Homo sapiens: one gene and its partners. The protein of the gene in region 1 interacts with the protein of each later gene in a biochemical or structural test. Each region holds a gene or a part of one and is shown on either strand. Other genes may lie near its edges.

Region 1 (4,619 bases):
AGTTTAAAAACATGCCTTCACACACACATTATGATGTTAGTGTACAAATTAGTTTTGATTTGGAAATATCACATTGGTACCTGTAATAACTGGAGATACCCTGAGGTATCATGAAAGCAGAGGTGGGTATCATTTTTCTAGGGTTGAGACCTCATCACGCTCAGCTGTGATACACCTCAACAGGTGAGTGAAACAGAAGATGTACAAGGGGCCTGAAATGAAGTCTTTAATCTGACCTACACTCCTTTCATCCCAGTGTTTCTCCAAGGCATGTGTCATCCAGATGGGAGAGGATACTGCATCCTTGTTAACATTAAATAGAAATAGAAAACAATTCATGCTGGCAATTACCATCTCTCTCTGCCAACAGTTTACTTCCTGTCCCTACAACTTAACCACCTCCAGGTACCACCTTTTGACTTCCATCCAGCCTCCAACTCACCTGAACAGAAAAAAGCCTCATTCAAAAGAGATGAGCCCGAAGGAAAAGAGAAAGGATTAAGGAGAAAAAAAAAATCATGATTTACCTTTAAAATAATGACTCATTTTATTTTTTTCTTTTAATACGTAGTTATAAATATATTTTGTCAAAATATATGATCAATATGGTCAAAACATTTGCACGTAAAGTCATAAATAAGGTCAAGGTGAATGTTTAGGGATTTTTTCCTTTTTTTTTTTTTTTTTTAAATAAAAGTCCAGCTATAAGGAAGCAGTCTGTGTAGTGTGTGGGTGAGTGGATGGGAACGTGTGTGTGTGGTGTATGTGGTGTGTGTGTGTGGTGTGTATATCTGTCTATCCTCAAGGACTGCCTGATCTCAGCGGCACCCACATCCCTCTACTACCATCTCCTGATAATTTTTCAGTACCACCTTATCATACTCATCCAGGTACAGCATGGAGATGGCACTCAGTTCAGTGGGCACACAACAGGCTTTGGGGATACTGGAATTGACAGAATTGACCAGGGTCTGCACAATGGCATGGTTGGTTGAGTTGAGGTGGTCAGCCAGTGGAAAGGGGCAGTCCCCATGGCAGTAGAAGGCCTGGTAGCCTGGTGGGGCCACAATCCAGTCATTCCAGCCCACATCGCTGAAGTCCACATAGAGCGAGTGGCGCCGGCAGTTCTTATTCTTCTTCCTGGCCCGCTGTGAGTGATGCTTAGGGCTACGCTTGGCCCTCCGGCGTCGGGTCAAGGCATGGCCCCGGCCATCATGGCCAAAGGTGACCAGGAGGGGCCGGAGCTGGGCCCAATTCCCACTCCCTTGAGGTAACGATCGGCTAATCCTGACATGCTGGCCCTGGTGGGTCCGAGTCTGATGGAGGTGAGTCACCTCAATGGCTAGCCCATAGTTTGGCTGCTTCTCCCGGGTCCAGCGAAGGACCGCAGGGCTCACATCAAAAGTTTCCCACCGTGTCACATTGTGGTGGACCAGTCTCGTGTCCAGTAGTCGTGTGATGAGGTGCCCAGGCACCACTTCTGCTGGGGGCTTCATAACCTCATAAATGTTTATACGGTGGAAGCCCCTTTCCCAATCAGGGCCCTGGTCCACCTGCTCCCGGAAGAGCCGAAGCTCTGCAGAGGAGATCACCTCGTTCTCAGGGATGCTGCTGAGGTTAAAGAGGAAACGAAAAGCAGAGTTTTCACTGGTCCCTGGGATGTTCTCCAGATGTTCTAGGCACAGTTAGGAAGGAAGGGGAAAAGAAAAAGCATATGAACTTTTTTCAAAGATGGAAGAGTCAAGAGATAGCTCAGGGTTGGGCAATGAATGGTGAATTCTGCTTATGCAGGGGAAACCTACTGGGGGAAAATAAGCATACCCCTTAATTTGAAGGAGCAGATAAGTGGGGCAGCTAACAAACCAGCAAAATGTAGCTAGCATTTCTCAAGCACCAAAGACAGAAACTATATCCAGCCTCCTTGATATGTCTAATAATTTCTATGTGTCAACTCCTCTATGGCACCACAATCAGACTCCTCTTTTAAACCCCCCACCTTGGCTTTGTGTCCACAGTTTTCTTTACAAGTGGTTGTAAAGAAAAAGAGGGGCCAACAGAGCACAGGCAGGAGGAAACATGCAGACAACCACCCTCTCCCTCTTCCACTATTGAGTATGTTACTAAACATTTCCCCAGCGATCTTGGAAACACAGAGCATGCCTTGTTGATCATGTTACAGAGGGGAAAATAAATTCCAACACAGTAATGATGCTGGTGGATTAATAACTCAGATTTACTTTGGAAAAGAAACATCCGCTAGGAAACATTCAGATCGGATTACAAGGCCCCTATTGAATAAACCCGACAAACACACAGCTGTAATATTAAATTCAGTAGGTGCTTTGAAAAAAACGGGCAGAAAACCTAGCAGAAAAGGCTTTGATATAGCAAAAACACACCGCTGGGGCTAGCCCACGTCTGAGTGCTGTCATTCCCCTTCCCCTGAACACCTCCCCCTCTGTCTCCAAAAAATAAGTTCGGCGGCAGCTCTGCAAATTCTTGGAGGTAAGCAGCTCTGTTCCTCAGCCTCCTGGACTGGGGCTTTGATGTAACCCGAACTCTTCTTCCCCAGGGCTTTCACTGCCCCTCTAGCCAGTCCCACCAGCCCTCCCCCACGCAGACTGGGGGAAGAGACTGACCTTCGTGGTGGAAGCTCCTCACGGTGTTGGCCCGGCTGGCCGGGCGCTCAGGATACTCAAGACCAGTGCTGTGGATCTGCTCTTCCTCCTCCTCCCCAGACTGAAGCCGGTAAAGATCCCGCATGTAGTCCGGAATGACGGCACTCTTGCTAGGCTGCGGGCGGCGGCGCAGCCCAAACATCTGCAGAAGTGTCGCCTCGAAGTCCCGCAGGAGCTCATGGCTCTGCCCTGAGCGGCGTCCTCCCGCGTGGCCCTGAATCTCGGCGACTTTTTTCTTCCCCGTCTCAGGTATCAAACTAGCATGGCTCGCGCCTCCTAGCAGGACTTGGCATAATAAAACGACCATCAGCATTCGGTTACCAGGAATCATGGTGTCTCTGGGGAGGGGGAGGGGAGTGGAAGGTTAAAGAATAAATAAACACCAATAAATAGGGAGAAATAGAGATGTGTCTGCATATGCATTTAGGGCTAGAAATGGAGGGGCAAGATGGAAAGCAGGTCAGAAAGATCAAGTTTGTGTCTTCTCCCTCACACCACCCGCCCACCCACCAGCTGCAGCCATGCACGGCCTGAAAGTAAGAATTGCCCTGTAATTACTTGGTCTAACTTGTTTACAGTCAAATAACCCCAAATCAGATAGCCTCCATCCTGTTAATCTTTTTTTGTCCTAACTGCTATCTGGGCCATGATCTCAGCGTGGCTTCTTGAAGGATAAACAGTTAACATTGAGGGGGTGAAAAGGGGTGGGGGAGGGAGAATTAAAATGGCATTGCTCTCCACTTTAGACCTTCAGCTTCTCTCCCTTTTCCTCCACCCTCAGAGCCCAACTTTCACAACTTCCAGTTGGTTCAGAGCCAGAGGGAGGGAAAGTGAGAGGCAGGGGCTGGGCGAAGACAGAGGGCGACAGGGTCCAGAAGCCGAGAAGGTGGTCTGGGAGCTAACCGGGTGGCTTGAGGGCTTATTTTATTGTGGCCGATGAGTTTGAAATATTCAGCCAAAAGTGCCTGATCGTGCCCGCTCATCCCCAGGGAAGGGGTGAGAGACGATTCCGGAGAGACCTCTGTGAGTTTTGACAAGAGAGTGGGAACGCGCCACGGAGACACTGGGGGCTCTCCCAGACAAGTTGGATAGGGGAAGGGAGTGGTTAGCCCTCAAGGTACAACCCCGGGCTTTCATCTCTTTAGCTCCCTCGCGCTCCCCTTTCTTGCAACGCTGAGAGGGCGAGTGCGCGCTAGCAGCACTTTAAAAGGAACCCGTACGCTTCCAGCGCCCCGGCTGCCGGGCCAAGAAGGGAGCGACAGTGCTGCCAGGGAGCAGAGTGTGGATATTGTAAAGGAGGTCCGACGGAAGGGACAGCCGGCGAGCAGGGGTGGTGAGGGCAGAGTGAATTCCGGGGAGGGGGAAGGAAGAGGTGTCTACTCACTGACAGAAAACAAGGCATATAATAACAGTCCATGATTCTTGACAGCCAATCTTGAACAAACTTGCTGGAAAGGCTCAGGGAAGCTGCAGCAGTGCGTTGCTCGGGATGGCACTACGGAATGGCTCCTAAAAGGAATATTTGAATATAATGAGACTCCACCGCAGACAGGCTCTGTTTTTCTTCCAGCCCCTCGGAGTCACGTGAGCGCCGAGGCCCCTCCCGCGGCAGGCGGCGAAAGGGCTTGCGCGCCCTCCCCTCCTCCACAGCCCCCCGCCCCTCGCGGGCCCGCCCCTCCAGGCGAGGCCAACCTCCGCGCCCGCCGCCCGAGCCTCAGCGGTCCGGGAGGAGCTCCCGGCGGCGCTCGGCAGAGCCCTCGGCCGGTGCCCCGCGGCCGCCGCGCTCCCAGGGCTACTGGCGCAGCGCACGGAGAACCCGGTTCTCGGCGCGGTGCGTCGTGCTGGGCCCCCGCGCCGGGCCACCTGAAGCCAGAGGATTTGGGGCGCACTGAAGGGACTGCGTCTCCCAGCTCGAACCCGGCTTAAGTGGGGCCGGGAGCG
Region 2 (7,738 bases), on another chromosome or scaffold:
TGATGGGAGCGAAGAGGGCTAAATAGAAAGTGCGATTGGGTCAGCATTTTCAGCTGCCTTGTGGGCTTCTATATAATGACTAATTTGTAGCATACACCCAGAAATATCCAGGCTTCATGAATTTATAACGACAACGCACACTTTGCCTGTTATAGGCGGTAAAGTAAGCCTCCTGTCAAAATGCCAAGACAATGCGGAGCAGAAACAATCTCAAGGATGTAGCCAAGAAGGCCATGAAGTGTATGAGTAAGCAAGTAACTCCCATATTGGATCTCTATTCAGGAATTGCAGAGGTTTGCTTAAAAAAAATAAAATAAAATAAAGCAACTAAAGGTACTCTTTTCATACTCTTTTCATTCCCCAAGGGCAGAATTAAAACTCTGCAGCTACAGATTTCTCTATTTTTGGGTCAGATTATCTGTGATCAGTGTGACAGTATTTTCACACCAGTTACTGAACATGCTAAAGCATTTGTGGGTCTAGAGCTTTCATTTCATCATTTTTGAATGAATCAGACATAAAGACCTCACCATTCAAGACAGTTTCTTTAACACCAGGACTACACGTGTGAATCTGCAGCACAATCACCAGTTTATAATAAAAGAAATGAGGTATTCTGAAGCTGAATTAAGTGAAATGTGGAGCCATATGGGGTGCTGAGGCAGATGATAAGGATCCAGGCATAAAACATATAGTAGTCCATCTGCAAAGAGCACTGGCACTCTTGCTGGGTTCCCTTATCTGAGAAACAACCCGGGCATTTAAATAGCACCACTCTTCAAAGAAATCTCTCAAAAGGAGCGTTCTTTTCTTTAACAGGATTAATCGCTTCACTCCAACAAGTTGTCCATAGAAATCGCTTACCACATTGTTGGGCTGAATCTAATGGTGACTTAAATGAGGACACATGAAGATACTGGGAGCTTCACATTCCAAATTCTTGAACGAAGACACCCTACTTTTCTAAACCTTTAAGCCAACTTAGTATGCCTTTCACGGGCTAGCAAAGAAACCTTCAGGGACCACATTCCAATTCTGTCACAGGATCCTATGGCAACTATGGGAAACAATATCCAAGCAGCCAAGGGGGACACAATCCCACCTAGCACAATTTCCATTTCATGAAACTTACATTTTGGTATTATGGACACATATTTTTCGCACAAACACTCCTGAATATATCTTTTAACATGTCAAGAAAAATTTTCCACGTAACTACATGCAGATTGACACTATTTTCTAAGGTTCTTAGGTTACTAATTGAAAGCCGTAATCATCCTAAAACTTTCTATTACACTTTTTTATTAAGCCGTCTTTTCCCTAATTGTCGGTGTTAAAAAGCAGCTATTACATCATAATGCAAAGCTACGCAAAGTAAATTAAGTCTCCTCAGATGTCACATTTTCCCCCCCATTACTTAAAAGACCTCCCTGATTTTTAGCATGGCGGGTATGGTTTAATAAGTAAAAATTACTCCGCACAGTTGGGTGGCATCGAAGTTCAGGATTCTCCAGACCAGAACGTTGTGAAGTGTCTCATATATACAGGACAAAAAAGGTCTGGAAGGAAAAGAAACTTATCTAATGCTGTTTGTTCTCAAGACTAAAGGAAAATGACCCTTTCAACCTTAGCATTAAAAAAAATTCTTTGTCTAGGCAAATTCCTAGAAAAAAATAGTGTGAAGAGCGTCCTGGATTTTCATGAAACGATTTTTTAAAAAGAAAAATAGGTATCACATGGTAGAAGGCTCATTTGCAGGCTTACTTCCCTTGGAACATACGCCTCAAGGCTGGGGAAGCGCCGACCTCCAGAAGGCAGCATGGTTATCTGTCAACCCCTCACGGAGCCCGAAGACACCCGGCTAGTCACAAAACACGAGCTTTTCCCGGGAGGCTGATCGCTGAACAAACGCAGCTTTTGCCAAAACGAAAGAAATCCCTGCTCAAAAAAGTTGACGTTACTTCGAGATTAACTCCCAGGTTTGCAAAATCTGGTAAAAATCTTTCCATCTGGTGTACTTCCTTCGCCTCGCCGCCACCCCCAACTCCAGAAAAGCAGCACAAGGCTCCTTGTCTCCCTCCGAGGCGGCTGCGACGGCGGAAACCTGATCCGAGCCTGACTTTCAGTAAACACCAGCGCAGAGAGCAATAAAGCATCCGGAACATTTGTCTCGGGCGCGCGGCCCCCGCCCGCTAAATGTTTGATAAGCGGCTGTCGGAGGGGAGATTTGTCAGCGGTCCGAGCCGAAGGCGGGGAGGGTGGAGAGAAGGCTCGTCTCTGCGCCCGGCGGCCGCCCGGTGGGTGGCTGCGTTACTGTGGCCCGGAGCCCGACAGAGGTGCGTGTCAGGGGCTCGGGAGGCCTTTCCCGTTGCGCCACGCCGCCCTTCCGCCCCGGCGAGCGCCTTCGAGACCTGGGGCTATTTGGGAACAAAGCCCTAGGCCCCGGGGCTGGCTCCCCTCGCGCGCTCCCGTCCTACCTGCGTGGAGCAGCCCGAGGCTGAACAGCAGCAGCAGCAGCAGCTCCAGCGGCGGGGGGCAGAGCCCGGGGCTGCGGCGCTGCTCAACCTCGGCGGCGGCAGCGGCGGCGCTGGAAGGTGCTGCTCTCAAGCCCATGCCCGTCCATGCAGGTCTCGTGGGCTCCGGCGAGGGCGGCGGCGCGGGCGCCGTGGCGGGTCTGGGCCCGTGGCTGCGGCATGGGCCGGGGGGCGCGCTTCGCTTCCTCTTCTTCCTTCTTCAGGCCCGTGTAGCAGATGGGGCGCCACCACCGCCGCAGCAAGCAGCGCGCAGCCGGCGCAGCCAGTCCGCGGCGGCAGCAGCGGGGCGCAGGGGCATCGTGGCGGCCGGAGGCGGCAGGCAGGGAAAGGGGCGGAAGAGAAGACACAAAGACCGTGAGCGACTGCTGAGACGAGTCCCGAGCGCGCCGGCACCCCGGCCCCAGCCAGCGTGGGCTCGGCGGGCGTGGACCTCCAAGAGGCTGGCCCAGCCCTAGCGACCACCCACCGGCGGCCCGGATATCTCTGCGCGGCAGCCCCCGCGGTCGATCAATCTCAGTCCCGCACTGCCGTCCCGCCCCGCCCTGTGCCCGCCAATCCACGACGCCATAATCCCCCGCCGTGTCCCTCCCTTCCTCCCCATTGGTTGTGACCGCACGTCAGCCCGACTCAGCCTGCCAATCGCAGGACCCAGAGGGCCCTCTCCCCCGCCCGCTCAGTGTAATTCGAGTTCCCTGTCCATCGACTCCAAGTCCTCTCTCCTGCGCCGCATGCTGCCTCGCGCTCCCTTTCCTTCCCCCTCTACCCCCTTCCGCGATTTACTGTTTCCTCGCGCCCAACAGAAATGGGCGACCGCAAGTCTTACTCTCGCCGGCGTTACAAAGGTACCGGCCTTTGACCTCTCCTTGAATTAATGTGATCCGATTCATCTTCCCTCCAAGTTTTTTTTTTAATTTAATTACCCCTCCCTGCCCTGGCCCTGCCAGCTTCAGCTCCACCTCCTTGGAGGAAGCAGGCGCTTTTACAGAGCGCCGCGCGGCAGGTCCCCTTTCAGCCAATCACATCTGCGGAACCGCGTTCCGAGTCGTTTGAGGGTGTCTGGTAAAGCAAGCTCGGGGCGGTGTTGGAAATCTGAATGTCACCCGCGGTCCGGAGCAGATAGGATGGGCTGGGAAGGTACCCGCGAACTGCCGCCGGAATTCGCTGGCAGCTGTGCGAGGCTCAGGTGTTCTAGTTTGACATTTCCCTTCCTGAAAGCGGCAAGGAGAGGTCTAAGAGTGGGCAAACTTCAACGTTCGGTTACAGTGTAATTAATGAGAGTGGTGGGTTTTTATGCAGTGTAATTATGCCACGATTTGTTGTTGCTCAGTGGCTTTTTCACAAATTTCTACAGATTATTTAAATTTTCCACAAATTTCTACGGATTAATTCAATGGCAGCTCACTTTCTCCTTTTATGATCGGATGGGTCCGAAAGTGAGGAAAAAGACAATTGTCTACAAAGAAAGAGGCTGCCAAGTGGAGACAGAAAAGCAGTTATGAGACTGATGATAGATTCCAATTTGTTATCGGTAGGTGTGAAGTGGTATCTAATCTCAAGAATGACCTCAAGGCTGAGAGACACTTGATACCGCCCTCGCCTTTGCCTTTCCCCAAACAGCACAGGGTTGCCATTTAAAATCCACTAACATCCAAATCGTAGTTGGCAACTGTACCCGCTATGTTACTCAGAATCTCTAATTAGGAATTTCTTATCAACCACGGACATGCTGATATTCCACACATGTTTAAATGAGCTAATCAATGGACTAGGATAATTGAGGGGCAAACCTTCAGTCTCACCAGCTCACTTATTAGACACATTTTGAATTGCCCAAACCACTAGGTCCCTAATGAAGGATGCCTATCTGTTTTTACTGTAACTTTTCATTACTTACTTGTTACATACTATGATGACTTAAGGGGTAAACACACCTTTCACTATCCACAATATAATCCAAGCCTGTGTATATCCATAATACGCTTAATAATAGCTTCACAGTTGCCTGGAGAAATGACTTTTGGGGAGGAAGTTATATGACATTTTTAGATAATGCTGCGGACTAAGTATTATTAGAGCAAAAATTTACTATCTTGCAATTACTTCATATAATTAGATACAGTTCATGACATACTAAGAAGCATCTTAAAAAAGTAATCAAACATAATACTGATTTTCAAAGTATTTGGCTAACAAAGACTACATTTTTTTCTCTTAACCCAAGATTTAATTCGACCCCTATAAAAGCAGCATCTCACTTTATTGATCATACTTCAAAGCATATACTCAATAGTTAAGGATCAATAATTTCTGTTTGGTTTGGGTCTTTCCACTCGTGACTTTCTATGATTTTTTACTCCCCTCCCCCTATATCCTGTTCCATAAGTACACGGGTGCTCTAGATTTTCCTATCAATAGAGGGCGTCCTCGAGTCATTGCAAATCCTGGTGTCGTTAAACGGAACTGTTCTTCAGAGGAAAAACTTCATCTCTATAAGGTGCTTTATTGCTCCTCTGTTGTAAAATTTGACAAGCTCGAGATTTATAAGCCTAACAATTCACTTTTTATTGCTGCATAAGTGTTCAGCCGCTAGAGGAAAATGCTAATTTTCACAAGTAAACCGCAAGGTGGTTCCTATTTTCAAGACATAGGTCAGTTGACACACTCGCGGGTAAATTCGTACTGTTCACAAGATCAGGAATTGGCTTGGAAAGCAAGAGCGTAGTGAATAGTCGCTTATACCGCAGCCACTCCTCAAGCCCGTGAGCTGCAAGTTACAAACGACTTTATATTGTACAAAGAAAAATCGGGGAGGGAGCTAGAACACAAACAAAAAAATCGGTGACTTATAAAAGTTTTATGTTTTAATCAGAAAAAAAATCATGAAGTGGCTGATGACTTGTGTAATTCACACATCCACCCTGTTTCTTGCCACTGGTACTCTTTCTCCCTTTCTCTTTGTTTTCAGAAAGGAAGGAGGAGACCTGAACAGTACATCCGGAGAATCCAGCAAAGCATACTACGGCATGAACGTGCAAGTGGACAGAATTAAAACACATGCCAGAAACACTAATGGATTCTAAACAAGATGCAGTTTCATTTCCTGAGCCTATACGTGATGTTTTTAACTGTTCTCCAGTTAATATGTCTCCATTTCCAGAAATCTAACAGGAGAATCTCTGACTGCTTAACAGATCACCTAAGCTTGCGATTTGTGCAATCCTTTCTAGAGTAAGGGCTCCCCGGCTGCTCCCCGGCCACTGTGTACCCAAAGCAGCGGCTGAAATAGCCCGGAGTCCAACAGCTCAGCGTCAAGCAGCTCGTGGTTTGTACTTACATCATTTTTTTTTTCAGAGCAAGAGTGAAAGTTTATTAAAAAGCGTTAGAACAGTAAGGAAAGGAAAGGAGAGAAAATAAGGAAAGTACAACTTGGAAGAGGGCCAAGCGGGCGACTTGAGAAATCAAGTGCCTGTACTTACATCATTCTTAACCCTTTCGCTCCTGGAGGGGGCTCAGCGGGATCAGGGGGCCCCTGAACTTCGGAACACGCAGGACCTGGGTGTGAGAGAAGAGTCCCAAAGCTTGGCGTGAGCAATGCACTCGCGGAGGGAGAGAGCCCGGGGCTTGCGGGGGGCTCATCACCCGCTCGTAGACAACGGGCCCCCGCAATCCCTGCGGGCTCCGCCGCTGCTCTCACCGCTCAAAACGGCAGGTGCAAAAAGCATTTGGGAGCCGCTTGCCAGCGCGCGGAGGTAATGCGCTTCCTGTCCATTTATCTCAGGAAACCAGTGCAGCCTTCCCTTCGAAACAAAATTAACCTCTCATTAGCCAGCCACTCGCTCCCAAGAAGGCCTTAAAAGCTTTACCAGCTCGCTAATGTATTTAGGCTTTTCTTCCAGGCAAACGCAGCCGCCGGTCTTGACTGCCATCGCCCAAGGGGTTCCTCTGGGCTCTCCCGCGAGCCAACAGCCGACCTCTCTCCAGCCTAGTCTGGGAAACTCCAGCCAACCCAGGATCCCATTTTGTAGTCCCGGGCAGACCCGAAACCCCTGAAAGAACTCCACTCCAGAAGACGCCAGAACAAGTTCCCACGAATTTCATGGGCGCCCTTCACATGAAAACCTCAGCTCCCCTATCCTCAAGGAACGGGGAAGGGCGCCGGGGAGGGACTTCGGTGGCCAGCTGTCCCTGGGTCGTGGGCGCTGTTTGCTCTGCGGAGCGCCAGCCCTGCACACAGCGGGTGCGGGAAGCGTTGATGGGAGGCTGGAGGGCGGGGTGAGCGTAAACTAGGATCTAGCCGGTTCCAGGCGTGGAGAATCAAATGTGGTCCTAGATCTGTAAGTTGCGAAAAGGGGCTTTTGGGAGCGTCAGAGCTTTCTCACTCCGGTCCCCCGCCGCCTTGAGGCTGGCAGATTTATACCCCACAGGTGGATGGAGACCTAAACAAAACAGTCCCGGCCGCTGCCTGCCGCTCGCCCCCCACGTCCCCCGGGCCCACCGCAAACTTCAACAAAATAAACAACTCACCACAGGCATTCCCTTGTCTGCAGCGCGACGCTTGCCAGCTGGGAAAATAAGCCGCAAGCCACGCGGCCGAGGCGCGGAGGGAAGGCAGCGCGGCGCCCGCCCCTCTCCCCCAGGTGGGGGGCAGCGCGACTCGGGGCGGGAGGGAGGCTCCGCCTCGGGGGCCGCTCTCCCAGTTCTCCGACTCCAGAATGAGCTCTGGGAGAGGAGCTGCGCCCTTCCAGCTAGCCCGATTTCTCCGCCATCTAGGGGAGAGGGCGGGGAGCCAAATCCCTCAGCCCCCCGCACCCCAGCAGCTTCCTCCAGGCAGCTTTCTCCCCAGTCAGCCTCAAATAGAGGTGAACAGAGACCCTCCTCTCCCCCCGGCAACCCCTATATCGCCACACTGCCCCCTGCCGGCGCTATCCGGCTCATTCCGGCACTGCGGACGGCTGGGGGCGTGGGGGCGTAGGGGCGCCGCAGACCCCCGCGTCCAGGTCCTGGATCAGTTCTCTCTTCGCCTTCCCCCCACCACACTCAATCTTGCACAAAGACGCCTTTCACGCCGCCAGCGCCACCCTCCGCGCCGCCCTCCGGGCCGGCGGCGCTGCCTTCGCCCACCCGCGGCACCAGCCGATTCCTGGTGGGCGATTGTGCCACTCGTCGCCAGGCAGGGCGGCAGCGGACGCGTGCGGGCTGTTCCC
Region 3 (7,752 bases), on another chromosome or scaffold:
ATCTGAGCACTTTGGGAGGCCGAGGTAGGCAGATCACTTGAGCTCAGGAGTTCAAGACCAGCCTGGGCAATATGGCAAAACGCCGTCTCTACAAAAAAATGGAAAAAAAAAAATTAGCCCGGTATGTTTGGCACACGTCTGTAGTCCCAGTTACTCAGGAAGCTAAAGTGGGAGGATCACCAGAGCCTGGGAAGTCAAGACTGCAGTGAGTGGTAATTGCATCACTGCACACCAGCCTAGGTGACAGAGTGAGACCTATCTCAAAAATAAAAACAAAAAACAAAACACTTGAAATTAAAACAATAAAATATAAGCTCAATTATTTTATAGTTTCAACAGACGTAATTATCAAGTTTCTACAAAACTTTGTGAACAATTGTTGTCTGTGTCCATACATATCTCATTAAATATTAGTAACAAATCTTTTGAGACCAGCACTGGCTTAAGACCTACACTTTGAGTAGTGCAGGTTTACTCCATCATCCTTCCATTTGATATTGGTTTAAGGTAATAGATCTCAAATCCTGAACTATTCTTTGTCGGGTATGCTAAATGCCCAACCTCCTGCAGAGTATTTAGTATCCTAGTCCTAGGACACTAAAAACCAGTGCCATCACCCTTACTAGTTATTGTCCAAACCAACACCTTTCCCACCTCCTACCCACCAATGGGGGAGCATCAGCAACGCCATAATTTGGAACCACTTGGGGGTGTGGGTTCTGACAGTTGCTCAGTAGTGTTAGCGTAGGCACTGTGGTTATCAGCCTGGGGAGGAATTGAGTCCTAGCACCTGTTCAAGAAAATTAAGCACCTGTGGTAATGAATTTAAAGTGGAGGGTGGGAAAGAATCCTTGCCAAATTATGCCTATTAGTTTTGTTTCCTACACATTTCTTGAATTTTGAAGGGGGCGATAGTGGGGAGAAAAAGTCAAATATTACCTTTGGGATGTTGGGATGTTGAGATTTATATTACATCACAGTTTCTCTTAACTCTTCTAACTCACTTTCTCCTTCACCTAAAATCTTTTGTCTTAACACTTTTCCCCTTATCCATTCCCACATTCTTATCCTCCTCGATATGTCTTTTTGACCCCATTGGCACAGTGCAATGCTATACAGATGGACGTTAAGTAGAAGGGGAGGAATAAATAGCAGCAAAAGCTAGGATGTAGAGAATTTTCTTCCCACCTTGGGCACTTAAGGAGAGGGGGATATTTATAAAAGATACATCGATCATTTCTCCCTTCCTTGGACTCACCAAGTTACCAAATTTATTCCCCATGCATTATGCCTTACAGCGTTGGCATATAAGAAATTCGTTACTTGTGCCACTTCAAGAATGCCCATGTCATCTGAACACAGATTTTTATAGTAGCTAGAAAGCAGCACGAAAGCTTCTAAGTCCTTCATTTAAGGGGAACTTAACATCCTCCATACTCCAAAGGTTTTCAGTCATCTTCCTGAAGATGAAGGAAAAGAGATTAGACGTGTGTTGCTGAAGTGTCTGTTGGTGGGTCCAAACGCAAGTTCAATTATAACCCAGTTCATTTCCAGCTCTACTTCAGAACTGAAGATTTAAACTTCTCCACATCTTTTTGAGCCATGACTTTGTTAACACAAAAAGAAATCTTTTATTCTGGAAGCAGTCTGTGTCACTTATTTACCTCTACCTCCTCATCCAGCCAACACTCTAGATTGAACTGGCTTCTCAAGATTCTTCCACCTGGGAATAATTTTCAGTTCAATTGAACTTGGCAGGACTCTGAACTTCAAATTCTAGCATTGGAGTGGCCATAAGGCTAGGTCTTGGGGCTGGGAAGTGAATGAAGTTAGCTAAAGATGTTTATCTCATAATGCCCGATGCTCTGGTCGATTAGAATTCATGTTTCCTTTTCCTTTCCTCTCCTTTCTCATTTTCCTTCCCAAACCAGGTTTTACACCTTGCAATGTGTTAGGAAGTGGTTGTTGGATTTATGGATTTTAAAAAGTGATTCTAGAAAACAAGGAGGAAAGAAGGGCAATGGGGTTAGCTGTAGCTACCTCTTTTTAAGCTTTGAAGCTCCGGTGGAAATTAGTCACAATTCCTTGTCTTTTTAGGTTACATTATTTTTGAATTAAAAAAAAAAACGAAGGGGTAATTGAACACATTTAGGAACAGAATAGCTGCGTTACTGGTTGTTAATACTTTTCCCATGGGGTTTTCTGTCTTTGTTAGAAAGGAATGTCCTCGTGAAGACTGGCTGCTTCTCTTTAGTACTACAGAAAAATAATTTTCATGCTCTCGTTCTTATAATGGCAAATTTAGTTGGTAAGATAAGGAATATATTTACAAGTTTCAGTTGTATTACTCGCTATTCCAGTTATTCCACTTGCTCAGGCTTCACAATTAAAGAAATACTGAAGTGATGCACAGATAAGACAAGAGTGGGGCCTGACCCTAACTGACATCAAATTCTCTAATGAACTTCAAGTGTTTCTAGAGTAAAATATACTCTTCCATTCCAGAACCGTTAGTACAACTCTTAATTCAACCAGAAAATGGAAGGCTTACACATATTCCTTTGACCAACTCATAAAGATAGGAGAACTACATGAGATCATTCAGACACCTTTAATACCGACTTGGGACTTTGTAACTGTTCCAACATCAGTCAAATTCTGAGCATCACGATTTGAGAACTGGCAATCTTGGAGAGATTTAAAGAGCCACGTTGATTATTAATAACCCTGATAAGTTGTAGAAATGGGCAGATAATTACAGGATGAACTTAATAGACAGAAATACAGAGTAATTTAGAGGAAGTAAACTGCTGTAAATATAAGTGAGAAGACTTGGCTTTGTGGGAAAAGGTGGGAATCAGTAAACCACAAATGAAACATGAATTAGCCATATTATACAGTTGTTTTATTAAAAACCAAAACTTTGTAGAGTACATTAACAGAGACTGTATTTAAGAGAAAGGCAGTCATCCCTTAGTCATTTATACAATTATTTATTAAGCACTTATGTGCTAGTTGATACTTCTGGGTGCTGGAATAAAATAAGGAAAAAATCAAGATCTCTACCTTCACGAAGCTCACTAAAGTGTGGTAAATGACAGAGCAACTACCTTCAATAGTCTCTAGTTTGTATTCTGCAACCAACTGAATACAGCAAATACTAAAAGCTACTTGAGGTAGGGATCCATCCTATTTTTACCTGTTGGATCCCATTCCGTGCCTAGCACACCAGCTTGTAAGCAATCGACATGGATTAAGGGGTAAAAACAGGCCCTTAAATAGCTAAAATTTTGACAAGTAATCACTTGTCTGATCATCAAATATGTCGTTCGAAATCCTCATTTTTTTCTTCAAAGCGCAGTAAACAAGTATTTGCGCACCTATTACGTGCAAAACAGTTTTCAACACAATGCTTTGTGTGTAAAAGGAACGGCGGGAATGGATTCAAGTTGCGCATCGTGATAAATGGCGTGAATATCCTGAGCGGGTGGACAGCCCTTCCTCCGTGAGTTTTTTCTTTTTCTTTTCTAGTCACCAAGACAGCACGCGTGTGCAGAAGCTGCAGCGGTGGGACGCAGTGCTAAGTCTGGGGGCGCACACACCAGCTCGCGCGTCGCGAGCTCGCCTGGGCAGCTCGGCGGGCGCGGCGAAACAGCTCCCACGTCCGCCTTCCACCGACTCCTCGGTATCAGAGCGGACGAGGCGTCCCCCCAGAGGAAAGACTGGGCGCCGCAGACGCCCCTTGGAGAAGTCCCTGGCCACTCGCCCCACCTCGGGGTCCTCTTCCTCTTGGGCTTCTCCTGACCCTTTGGGTGGGCGCTCCAGACAGGCCCGTCGGACGCGATTTGGAAACGGGTCGTGCCCGGCCTAGCCCGCATCTACTCGCCCGGCCACAGCCCAGCCACAGCTTAGGGACTTTGAGGCGCCCGCGCCCCTTTGTCGCGGTATCTCTAGCCCAAGCAGGCCGGACGCCGAGGCCTCGCGGTATCGAGCCTCCGTCCGCCCCGCCTCCTCGCCCTCCACTCCGCCCCGCCCTCGCTCTCTCACCCCTCCCCCGCTCCCGCCTCGCTTCCCCGACAATCTCCTCGCGCTCCCGGCCCGGCACGCGCGCTGCGCCCGGCCGCCGCTGCCGCCGCCGCCGCCGCCGCCGCTGCCGCCGAGCGTTCCTCCGCTGCGCCTGGCTTCCAGCTTCGGGCCGGAACCGGAAGTTTGGGGGGCGGAGCCCGGCGGAGGCCAGGAGACCGAAAACGCGGCCGAGCCCGGAGCCCGGAGCTGGAGCCAGAGCCTGGACCAGAACTTGGCCGCCGCCTGCACCGCCGCCGCCGCTGCCGCCCGCCGCCCCTTCCCCGCGCCGCAGCCGCCTCGCCGCCACCGCCGCGAGCTCGGCCGCCAGTGGTCCTCGGACTTTAGGTGTCTGGGTTGAAGGTCGGTCCGGACATCGGACCCAGTCAGTTCCCAGACTGTCCGGGCGGCAGCGGACGCCGCTGCCGCCGCCGCCTCTTCGTCGCCTCAGCCTGGCGTTTTGTTCCGAGAGACGGGAGAGGCGAGCGGAGCTGACAGTGATTTTGACAGTGATTTAAACCCGCTTTTGTTGTTGTTGGCTTTTCGTTGTTTGGTTTTGTGTGTTGTGCGTGTGTGTGGCGGTTTTTCCCCCGTGGTGCATTTTATTTTTTATCGTTGTGCTCTTTTTTTTCTTTTTTTTTTTTAACCCAGTGAGCGTTTTTTTTTTTTTTTTTTTTTTTTTTTGGTCTGGGCTTCCGAATATGTTTTATGACGGTTGATTTTACACCAGGAGGTTTGTCTCCGAGGAAGACCCAGGGAACTGGATATCTAGCGAGAACTTCCTCCGGATTCCCCGGCGCCTCGGGAAAATGGGAGCTGCTGCAAAGTTGGCGTTTGCCGTCTTTCTTATCTCCTGTTCTTCAGGTAGGTGCAGGGAGCGCGGCGCGGTGGGGCTGCTCCTGCGGCCGCGGCGGCCGCTGCTGGGGGCCGCGGCTGGTGTTGAGTCGGAGAGTCCAGTGGAGCCTGGGGAGGTTGCCCACTCCCTGCGCCCCTCGGCTGCCACCGCCCCCCCCCCCCGCCCCCAGGTCTGATTGTGATCTGGAAACCTCCATGCATTTTTCTCTTTTTGAGTTGGGTCGGCGAGCTGATAAGAGTGAGTGCTGTGTTGTTGTGGAAGTGAGAAAGTCATGTTTTGTGGCCATAACACTGGATGACAGCGCTGGTTGGGTTGCAATTAAGCCGCAAATACCACAAGTGACAATTTATGCAAAGGTTGAGATCTGAAAGGAGTATTTAGTGTGGGCTCCTCCAAAACAAGGGTTGCTTTTTGTCATCGTTTAATTAGTGCTTCACCGGTGAATATCACGACATAGATCAAGCCAGTTGCTGCTTAATTTTGGCTGTGGGAAACAATACATCCTATCAGCAATTTAATCTGGGTCTCCCCTCACGTTTTCTTCAACTTCAGCGTCCAGCAGTGTTAAAAATAGTTGTAGTTGTTGTTGGAGTATTAACTATAACCCAGTGCAGAAGAGGTATGCCGCTTGGTATTGGTAATGTGCTGGCGTTCAACCACCATTTGTGTGCTCTTTTGGGGCATAGATTTTGCTTACCTACGGAATACTTATTTTAAACGCTTTGTATTGAAGCATTGTTTTCGGTTTAGAACAACCCATGTGAAATTGTTTTTGTTAAATATAGTACACTCATAAAATAGGTTTTAGCTCAAGGTTGGGGGAATAAACGGGCCATTTTATATTGGAAATTTTGATTTTGTGAGGACGTTCTATGGTTGCAACCAGTGGTTGGAAAAACTATCTAGTCTTTTGTATTTGAAATTCTATAAATAAATACAGCATCTAGCTGAAAGGTGTGCAGATGTACATAACAGGAGAGTTAGTTCAATAGATGAAACATTTTAAATAAGTCTCATTGGATCTATTTATTGTAAAATTTAATATTCAGTTACAAGCTTGTGGCATAGAATTACGGGGGACTCTTGGAAACGGGGGCGAATTGACAGGTTTCATGGCCATGTCTTTATCTCGTTTGCCACAGGAAAATTAAAGGGTGGTAGTCTTCTTTGTGTACCTCTGTGGGGTGTGTGTGTGTGTGTTTGTGTGTTTGTGTCCGTCTTCCCCACCCCCCTTTAAATATAATCTTTTGTAATGTATAGAATTTTGCTGAATGGTACATTTCCTTGTGGTTAATAAATGGATAAAGTCTAGTCTTATGTCTGTAGTGGTATTGATCAGTTCCGGGTGGGCTGAATGTGTTGTGAAATGGCGATCATTGCCAGAGATTAACCAAAAGAATCATGTCTGTTTAAATGGAAGAAGGAACATGCTTAAGGCAGGCTGACAGTTCTTTTTGTGCACGGTTTGGGAAGGAAGCTAAACAATGGTGTGTCTGAAATGAATGAAGGCCTTGATAACATTAAACCTCTTGCTTTTGTGACATGACTTAACCATGTAGTTTTTATCTTTCCAGTAGTACTCTTTTTTCCTCTGCTTCTATATGTTGTGGCTGGTGAACTCCTCTTGTTCAAATCCCTTGTTCTGATCTCTTGCCCTTGAGGAGGAGGGGCATCATGGCCACTGACCAAGGAATTGTGGACATTATTCCCTCTCAAACCCACCTGAGTCACACTAATTGATGAAGGAGGTTATTCTTGAGCAGTCTCAAGGTATTACTTCTTGAAAAGCAGGCTGTCGCTACAGATCTTACAGCTTCTTCTGCTTGGTTTGGTAGTAAAAATAATTGAGCATTAGTTTCTTGTGGGATTATTTTCATTGGGCCAGGATTATTTTCAGTGGGCCAGGAGGTTAATAGCTATAATTTTGAAATAAAGTGATTTTGTTGCTGTAGGGCATATAGATATTCCACTTATATTAAACTAATATTATGTTGTTGCATAGGCTTTTTAAGATGAACATTCCCAGTTGAACTAAAATATGTGATTCTGTTGAAGATAATTGAAATAATCATAAAGACCTTAATCCATATTTATACATGAACAATTTGAGTACTTAAAATGTCTGATTTTTAAAAGCCTTTTGTTATGGATCAGATGCACTCTAAAAAAGGATTATTATGTTTCTCCAACTAATTGATTTTTCTACAAAATGTGTGATCTGACATGTTGGAAGCATGAGGTGACTATTTTTATGAGAATTTTAAAAATTCTCAGGTTGTCAGTTTTTCATTTCTAGATATTTGATTTTTTTTAAAAATCAAAATGGGAAACAATAGTAAGGAACAGTTTTGTTCCAGGTGTTTAGGAGGGATGTTTACTATTTCGTGGACTCTGATTTTTCAGTTTCCATCCCATGGTATGTATTCTGGAGACTGATTATGCAGACTATTCCTGTAGGATATGGCCAAGTGTATAATTTCCTCCTCTCTCTCATTCCAGGGGAAACATTTTAAATTTTGCCCCTATCCTGGAGTGCCTTCAGATTACCTTTGATTTTGAATTTTTTCATTCCTCTCATACTTTCTCAGATTCTGTTTCAAAACATAAATCTTAGTTTTCTTTTTATAGCATTGTGGTTTATTTGTGTCTTTCCCCACAGTTTGTTGAAGTATGAGAATGACTTTAATACTTGCTTTAGTACTTAGATTTATCCTATCTAGAGTTATGCAGCTATTGTGGTATTTGAGTTGCATAGAAGTAAGTTGAGAATTCCTTTGGATTTTGTGGGAGCTGGAGCAGTATGGTCAATGTATTTGATGAAAGAGGAAATGGAA
Region 4 (7,029 bases), on another chromosome or scaffold:
AAACATTATATAAAATGTTGACTAAATTCTGTAGTGTATTTGGAGTGAACATCATCTTGAATAGAGATTCTAAAATTTCATAATCTTAACCTCCGACGATATGATTATACTTGTTTAAAAAGAACATTATATCCAGATATAAACTTAACAAATGAAATATTACAAAATATGAACATAGATAGTTTTGTTTCCCATAATAATTCCCAGCATTTTCACCCTGTCCTGTTCATACGAGTCAATTCTCTTCTTCAATTCCTGTCCCATCAGCCGTCTGCTGAAAAACACTGCTTTGTCTTGGCTAAGGCTGCACAAGTTCAGTCTCGCACTGGCTCAGCCTCCCCTTTCAGCAACACCATTTCCCTACCAGGGTACAAGCTGTTTCCTGGTGCTCTAGGTGGAGTCTGATTTGGCATTCGTTCCCCATCCCTAGTGCTCTTTAAGCTGGTACCTGAAGTCACAGAAACGCTTTGCTTGCTAATTATTTACACCAGCAGTGCATTTAAAGCAATTTCATAGGTACACCCTGAAAATCTTGGTAAAGATTCTTCATCACTGCCTATGTCAGCACTTTGGGCAGGGGAAATGGAAGAGAATAGGAAACTTTCTCTAAAGCTTTGTCAACACATGTATTATAGAATGGATTCTACTATGTAAGAGTTCTCAATTATAAAATATGGTAAGCATTTACCTTTTAAAACCAACATAAAAGGGATGAAATTAAGCTTTTTATGATGATATTTTTATATGAGTTATCAGAGTGGTATATCAAATATCTACTCTATTTATAAAATGGATAAAACAAGGCACAATGAGGAATGATGTGCAACTATAAAAACTCAGTGTGCTAACAGTAGCACATGAAGAAATCATAATTCACATCAACATGCTTCTGCTAACACTTTCAAAGCAAAAACCTTTTGGAATGCTAGAGGAAAACCACGTCAGACTTCATGTTAAAAACCTCAGATCTTTCAAGGAATTCTCTGCGCACCTGCTTCTCATATGACCAAAGTTGTACATGTATTCAAAGGAAAGGGCTTATTGCTAGGGGGCAATAAAATCAGTAAGAACAGTTATATAATTAAACACATCACTGGCTATGTCATATTTTTAAAAGAAACTTATTCCAAAGTCTTTACAACTTAACTTACTGGGATTCTGATACAAGATACAACCAACAGACTTACAGAATAACTTTTTATACCTATTATTTTACTAAGTTGCTTTGGTTTGCATTTGTCTTCTTTAAAACATGCAGTTCATACATTTGACAGTTTTACTACCATAGTCAATACATTCTGGACCAATGCACTCGCAGCAGGCATTATGAAACCAGCGATATTTGGATGCTCCCATGGACTCACAGGATATTTTACACTGATGTATGGACATGCAGTCATCAAAATAAACCACAGTACACATGTGTTCTGAAAAACAAAAATTTAAGATTTCAGGGCAAGAAAGAAGAAAAACAAAAAAATAAAATGCTTTATTACCTAGTTGAATATTAACAGTTATTTATCTTGGTTCTCTTATTACTGGTCTGTACATGACAAAGATGAGGTACAGGAAAAAAGATCTTCATTTATTAATTATGTTGAGAAGGAAGTCAGATTCTCCCACTCCATCTGAAGAAGGCAAAGGGCTTCCTTAGCTTCTTTTATTAGATTTCAGGCTTTGATCGAAAAGTTGGATTATTGGGCTTAAAAACATTTGCTATGTTATACAGCTGTGCTTTTAAACTGGGCATTTCCTTTTTTTTTTTGAGATGGAGTCTCACTCTGCCACCCAGGCTGGAGTGCAGTGGTGTGATCTTGGCTCACTGCAGCCTCCGCCTCCCAGGTTCAAGTGATTCTCTGCCTCAGTCTCCCGAGTAGCTGGGATTACAAGCATGCACCACCACAGCTGGCTAATTTTTATATTTTTAGTAGAGGAATCAGAGAATCCACAGAACTAAGTAGAAAATGATAGATCCATAAGTTAAAAACAGACAACAAACAGAACTGCAAATGCAGGCCAGGCATGGTAGCTCAAGCCTGTAATCCCAACACTTTGGGAGGCCGAGGCAGGTGGATCACCTGAGGCCAGGAGTTTGCAACCAGCCTGGCTAACATGGCGAAACCCTGTCTCTACTAAAAATTAAAAAAATTAACCGGGCATGGTGGTGGGTACCTGTAACCCCAGCTACTCGGGAGGCTGAGGCAGGAGAATCACTTGAACCTGGGAGGCAGAGGTTGCAGTGAGCCGAGATTGCGCCATTGCACTCCAGCCTGGGCAACAAGAGTGAAACTCCATTTCAAAAAACAAACAAACAAACAAACAAACAAAAACCTGCAAATGCAGGAGGAGCAGTAGAAAGAGACTGACTCTATCTGGGGGAATAGGTGCCCAGGAAAGATGTCACAGAGAAAAAACTTTAGTTGTGTCTTGAAGACAGCTGGAGTTTCCAGGAATTAGCTTCTTGCTAATTGCTTCATAAATTTAAATAATCTTTGAGCAAAATTTATGAATTATTATTTAATATCTGTTATGTTGATTACTTACATTTTAATAATGGAGAAAATGATAACAAAACATATTATTATTGCATTCCATATGTTTCTAATGTTTTCCAAAATCTAGCATTTGTTTTACAAAGTACTTTAACCTAAAAGGGAATAAGAAATCTTACACTGTCATTTAACAGAAGCTGTTTTGCCTTTTACTATTAATGTTCGAAGCTCACACTGTTTTTTGTTTTCTTGGTTTTTTTTTTTTTTTTTTTTTTTGAGATGGAGTTTTGCTCTAGTTGCCCAGGCTGGAGTGCAATGGCGCGATCTCGGCTCACCGCAACCTCCACCTCCCAGGCTCAAGCAGTTCTCCTGCTTCAGCCTCCCAAGTAGCTGGGATTACAGGCATGTGCTACCACGCCCAGCTAATTTTGTATTTCTAGTAGAGACGAGGTCTCTCATGTTGGTCAGGCTGGTCTCAAACTCCCGACCTCAGGTGATGTGCCCGCCTCAGCCTCTCAAAGTGCTGGGATTACAGGCGTGAGCCACCGCACCCAGCCCGCACTGTTTTATATAGGTAGGAATGTAATGGAGGGCACAACTAATAGTCAAGTAAGAGTACAAATTATACTATTTATACATAATTCACCTCATGTTTTAAGAAATAATTGCAATTTTCATAAGTGCTTTATGCTTCCACAGTAAAATTATATGGTGCCTTTTGTCAAAAAATATCAAAGATTTTATAAAAGTCACATGCTCTTTACATTCCAAAATTATGATATGACCTATCTTCACTAATAAATGCTCTTAAATATGCTTCTGTAATTTGTATAAGTTATTTTCTCACTTAATTCCTTTTCTGACCAACAGCACCCATTTGCAGAGAACTGGCTGGGGTTAGTTTATGCCTGGAAATGAGATGTCTGGAATACCAACTTGCTTATAAAGAAATTTAGCTAATGACTTTGGCATCATTTTGGTACGGGTGCTATTATAAAAATCTGACTTCATGGGATACTCTGAATGTCACCTGACAATGAGCAATATTTTATTAGAGAAGCAGCATTGTTGCTATCTTATGAACAGAATAAAGCCTAGCACAAATAAATACCAGAATTAGGAACAATTATCTATTTTCCAATACAGTACAGCCTCTGCTGCCAGGAGTATGGAGGAATTCTGACAATATGCTGACATGCCTCTTTATCTTTTTTTTTTTTGGTGAGACGGAGTCTTGCTCTGCCACCCAGGCTGGAGTGCAGTGGTGTGATCTCGGTTCACAGCAACCTCCGACTCTCAGGTTCAAGCAATTCTCCTGCCTCAGCCTCCCTCGTAGCTGGACTACAGGCGCCCGCCACCACACCCGGCTAATTTTTGTATTCTTAGTAGAGATGGGGTTTCACCATGTTGGTCAGGCTGGTCTCGAACTCTTGACCTCGTGATCCACCTGCCTCGGCCTCCCAAAGTGCTGGGATTACAGGCATGAGCCACCACGCCCAGCCGACATGCCTTTTTATCTACTCAAGGATTGGAGATATTTTTTTTCTCTTATCCTTCTGGCATGTGCCTCTAGATATGATGGGATCAGGGTTATTGAGTCTAGAATTTATGTGAGATGATACAAATTCAAAACCAAAAGGCTGCTCCAAAAGATGGTCTTATATAGGTTTTATAGATTACATGGACAGACCACATGAGGGGGCGGAATGGAAAAAGTCAACTGTTGGCAGTTACCTTTGTCACTGGAATAAGGCGCGTGAACATTATTGCTGGGGACAGACACATTCTGGTGGTGTGGCTGGTTCACAGTTTCTAAAAATGAAACCAGATTCTCATGATGTGAAAGTTCTTCTGCAACAGGGAAAGAAACGATGTTCCAATTCAACTGAGTATCTCCTTCTGTGAGTGCCCGGAAGAGAGAAGGGATCGGTTCATGCAGCTCCTCCACTGTGCTCTTTGAAGTTGGAGGTGTGTCACTATAATTTCGAGGATTACACATACCTGGGTTGGGGGTAATATCATAAGATTTTGTTAGTTACTGCCTTGCAATCAGAGCTATAACACATTAAAATTATGTAACTTCTAGGATTACACATGGATATTTTCCTACCTTTTTTTTTTTTTTTTTTTTTTGCTGGGTGAGCCTAAATGATGATATTCTTCTACCCCAGTAGCTTCAAGCATACTGAACGCTCAGATCTTGTTTTTTAAATACATAATAGGAACCAGAGCTCCTTGGAGGAAAGACTGATTTGAAGGCTGGGTCAGGAAAGTACAAAGTGAGCCAGGAACACATTTGTGCCAGAAAGTAAGGAAGTGCACCATGAATGATGGGACATGCTGAAGAGACACAGGAGGACAACTGAAGGGGCTCCTACTGGCTAATAGACAATTTGAGCATTAAAATAATAATAAGCTGAGCGCAGTGGCTCACGCCTATAATCCCAGCACTTTGGGAGGCCAAGGTGGGAGGATCACTTCAGCCCAGGAGTTTGATACCAGCTTAGGCAACATAGCAAAACATCATCTCTACAAAAAATAAAAAATATTAGCTGGGTGTGGTGGTGCATGCCTGTAGCCCCAGCTACTTGGGAGGCTGAGGCGGGAGGATTTCTTGAGCCCAGGAGATAAGGCAGCAGTAAGCTATCACTGTACCATTGGACTCTAGCCTGGGCAACCCCATGTCAATCAATCAATCAATCAATAAACATGGATTACCATCTTGTAAACAAAACAAGAATCAATAAGTTCTTATATATAAATAAATACAAGAGAAGGGAATGATATTCCTTACCAACTGATAAATGTAGAAGAAAGGAAACAGAAAATCACCATTTGGCACTATCACAGGGGTTTGATTCGGATGGGAATGGTCAATGGATATTAAGTCTGATGAGTGACTGTTAGATAAGAATATACTGATGTATTCTTGGAAAGTTCTCCACAAAATACTAATCACTTACAAAAGGTCATTAATAATGACTTTAATGTGGAGAAGTCTGGCGGGCACCAATATGATCAGAAGATCAAAGTTAACATCACCAGTGATGGGAGGTGGTGATGTTGCCAAGAATGTGTGACATAAGTCTGGTCACAAGTAAACATCAGGCACATCAAGGCTGAGGGAAATCCTGTATAATCAAGGTCTGTACTCTTTAACACTGTCAAGAGAAAGACTAAAGGACTGCTTCAGATTGAATGAGTCTGAAGAAACATAACTACTAAACGCATCACATGTTCGTGGATAGGACACTGGGCCAGAAAGAAAGAAGAGGTACCACTGGGACAGCTGGTGACACTGAATGGGGTTTGTGGATTGGGTAGCAATGTTATATTGATATTGGCTTCCTGATTTGGAGGGCTGTATGCCAATTTTTAGGAGAATATCTTTGTTGTTTGAAAATATAGACTGGAGTGTTTAGTGGTAATGGGACATTGTTTGTAAAGCTTGCTTTGCAAAGATTCAAAAAAACATGAATGATCATGTGTGTGCGTGCGTGTGTGTGCATGCATGCATGTGTGTGTGTCTGTAGGGAGAGGAAGGGTATTGAGCAATGAAGCAAATGCAATGATAAAATGTTTTTGTAAATTGACATAATAATTATACTTATGAGTTACAGTGATGATTCAATACAATCATGAATAATGATCAGATCTGGGTAATTAACACATCCATCATCTCAAACATTTTTGTGTTGGAACATTCAATATCCTTCTTCTAGCTATTTGAAATGTATAATACATTATTGTTAACTATAGTCATCCTATAGAACTAGAGAACACTAGAGAACTCATTCCTCCTATCTAGCTGTAATCTTATATCCTTTAACAAATATCTCTCTATCCTCCTGTTCCCTCTACCCTCCTATCCTTCTCAGCCTCTACCATCCTCCGTTCTACTTTTTACTTGCATGGAATGAACTTTTTTCTAACTTCCACATATGAGTGAGAACGAGAGCATGTGGTGTTTAACTTTCTGTTCCTGGCTTATTTCACTTAACATAATGTCCTCCAGTTCCATCTATGTTGGCATAAATGACAGAATTTCATGCTTTTTTGTGGATGAATAGCATTCCATTGAGTATAAATACCACATTTTCTTTATGCATTCATCTGTTGTTGGACATCTAGGTTGACTCCACATTTTGGCAATTGTGAATACTGCTGCAATAAACACAGAGGTGCAGATGTCTCTTCGATATACTGATTTCCTTTCCTTAGCATAAATGTATAGTAATGGGATTGCTGGATATGGTAGTTCTATTTGTGGTTTTTTGAGGATGCTCCATACTGTTTTCCATAGTGGCTGTATTAATAACTGGGGAATCTGGGTGAGGGAAAATATAAATCTTTTTATCCTTCTGGCAAATTTCTCTATATTTGAGATTATTTCAAAATGAATTATTAAAAAATAATTTTAGGTCAGACATCATAGCTCATGCCTTTAATCCCAGCACTTTGAGACGCAGAGGTGAGAGGACTGCTTCAGGCTAGGAGTTCAAGACCAGCCAGGACAATATAGTGAGACTCTGTCTTT

Evidence for each region.
Region 2: the proteins of BMP4 (region 1) and RGMB form a complex in vitro, tested with the Homo sapiens proteins (one study listed by BioGRID).
Region 3: the proteins of BMP4 (region 1) and ACVR2A form a complex in vitro, tested with the Homo sapiens proteins (one study listed by BioGRID).
Region 4: the proteins of BMP4 (region 1) and TWSG1 form a complex in vitro, tested with the Homo sapiens proteins (one study listed by BioGRID).

What each region holds. Positions count from the first base shown.
Region 1 is NC_000014.9:53,949,214-53,953,832, forward strand, and holds the end of BMP4 (bone morphogenetic protein 4 isoform a preproprotein), read right to left. Parts: intron 4,188-4,619; coding exon of another isoform or gene 4,063-4,187; intron 3,017-4,062; 5' UTR 3,010-3,016; coding exon 2,640-3,009; intron 1,676-2,639; coding exon 819-1,675; 3' UTR 523-818; downstream 1-522.
Region 2 is NC_000005.10:98,768,946-98,776,683, reverse strand, and holds the start of RGMB (repulsive guidance molecule B isoform 1 precursor), read right to left. Parts: upstream 3,022-7,738; 5' UTR 2,732-3,021; coding exon of another isoform or gene 2,614-2,731; coding exon 2,478-2,613; exon of another isoform or gene 1,495-2,477; coding exon of another isoform or gene 1,482-1,494; intron 1-1,481. UniProt on the Homo sapiens protein: Member of the repulsive guidance molecule (RGM) family that contributes to the patterning of the developing nervous system. Acts as a bone morphogenetic protein (BMP) coreceptor that potentiates BMP signaling. Promotes neuronal adhesion.
Region 3 is NC_000002.12:147,840,282-147,848,033, forward strand, and holds the start of ACVR2A (activin receptor type-2A isoform 1 precursor), read left to right. Parts: upstream 1-4,747; 5' UTR 4,748-4,871; coding exon 4,872-4,926; intron 4,927-7,752. UniProt on the Homo sapiens protein: On ligand binding, forms a receptor complex consisting of two type II and two type I transmembrane serine/threonine kinases.
Region 4 is NC_000018.10:9,393,744-9,400,772, reverse strand, and holds part of TWSG1 (twisted gastrulation protein homolog 1 precursor), read right to left. Parts: intron 4,494-7,029; coding exon 4,227-4,493; intron 1,428-4,226; coding exon 1,246-1,427; 3' UTR 1-1,245. UniProt on the Homo sapiens protein: May be involved in dorsoventral axis formation. Seems to antagonize BMP signaling by forming ternary complexes with CHRD and BMPs, thereby preventing BMPs from binding to their receptors.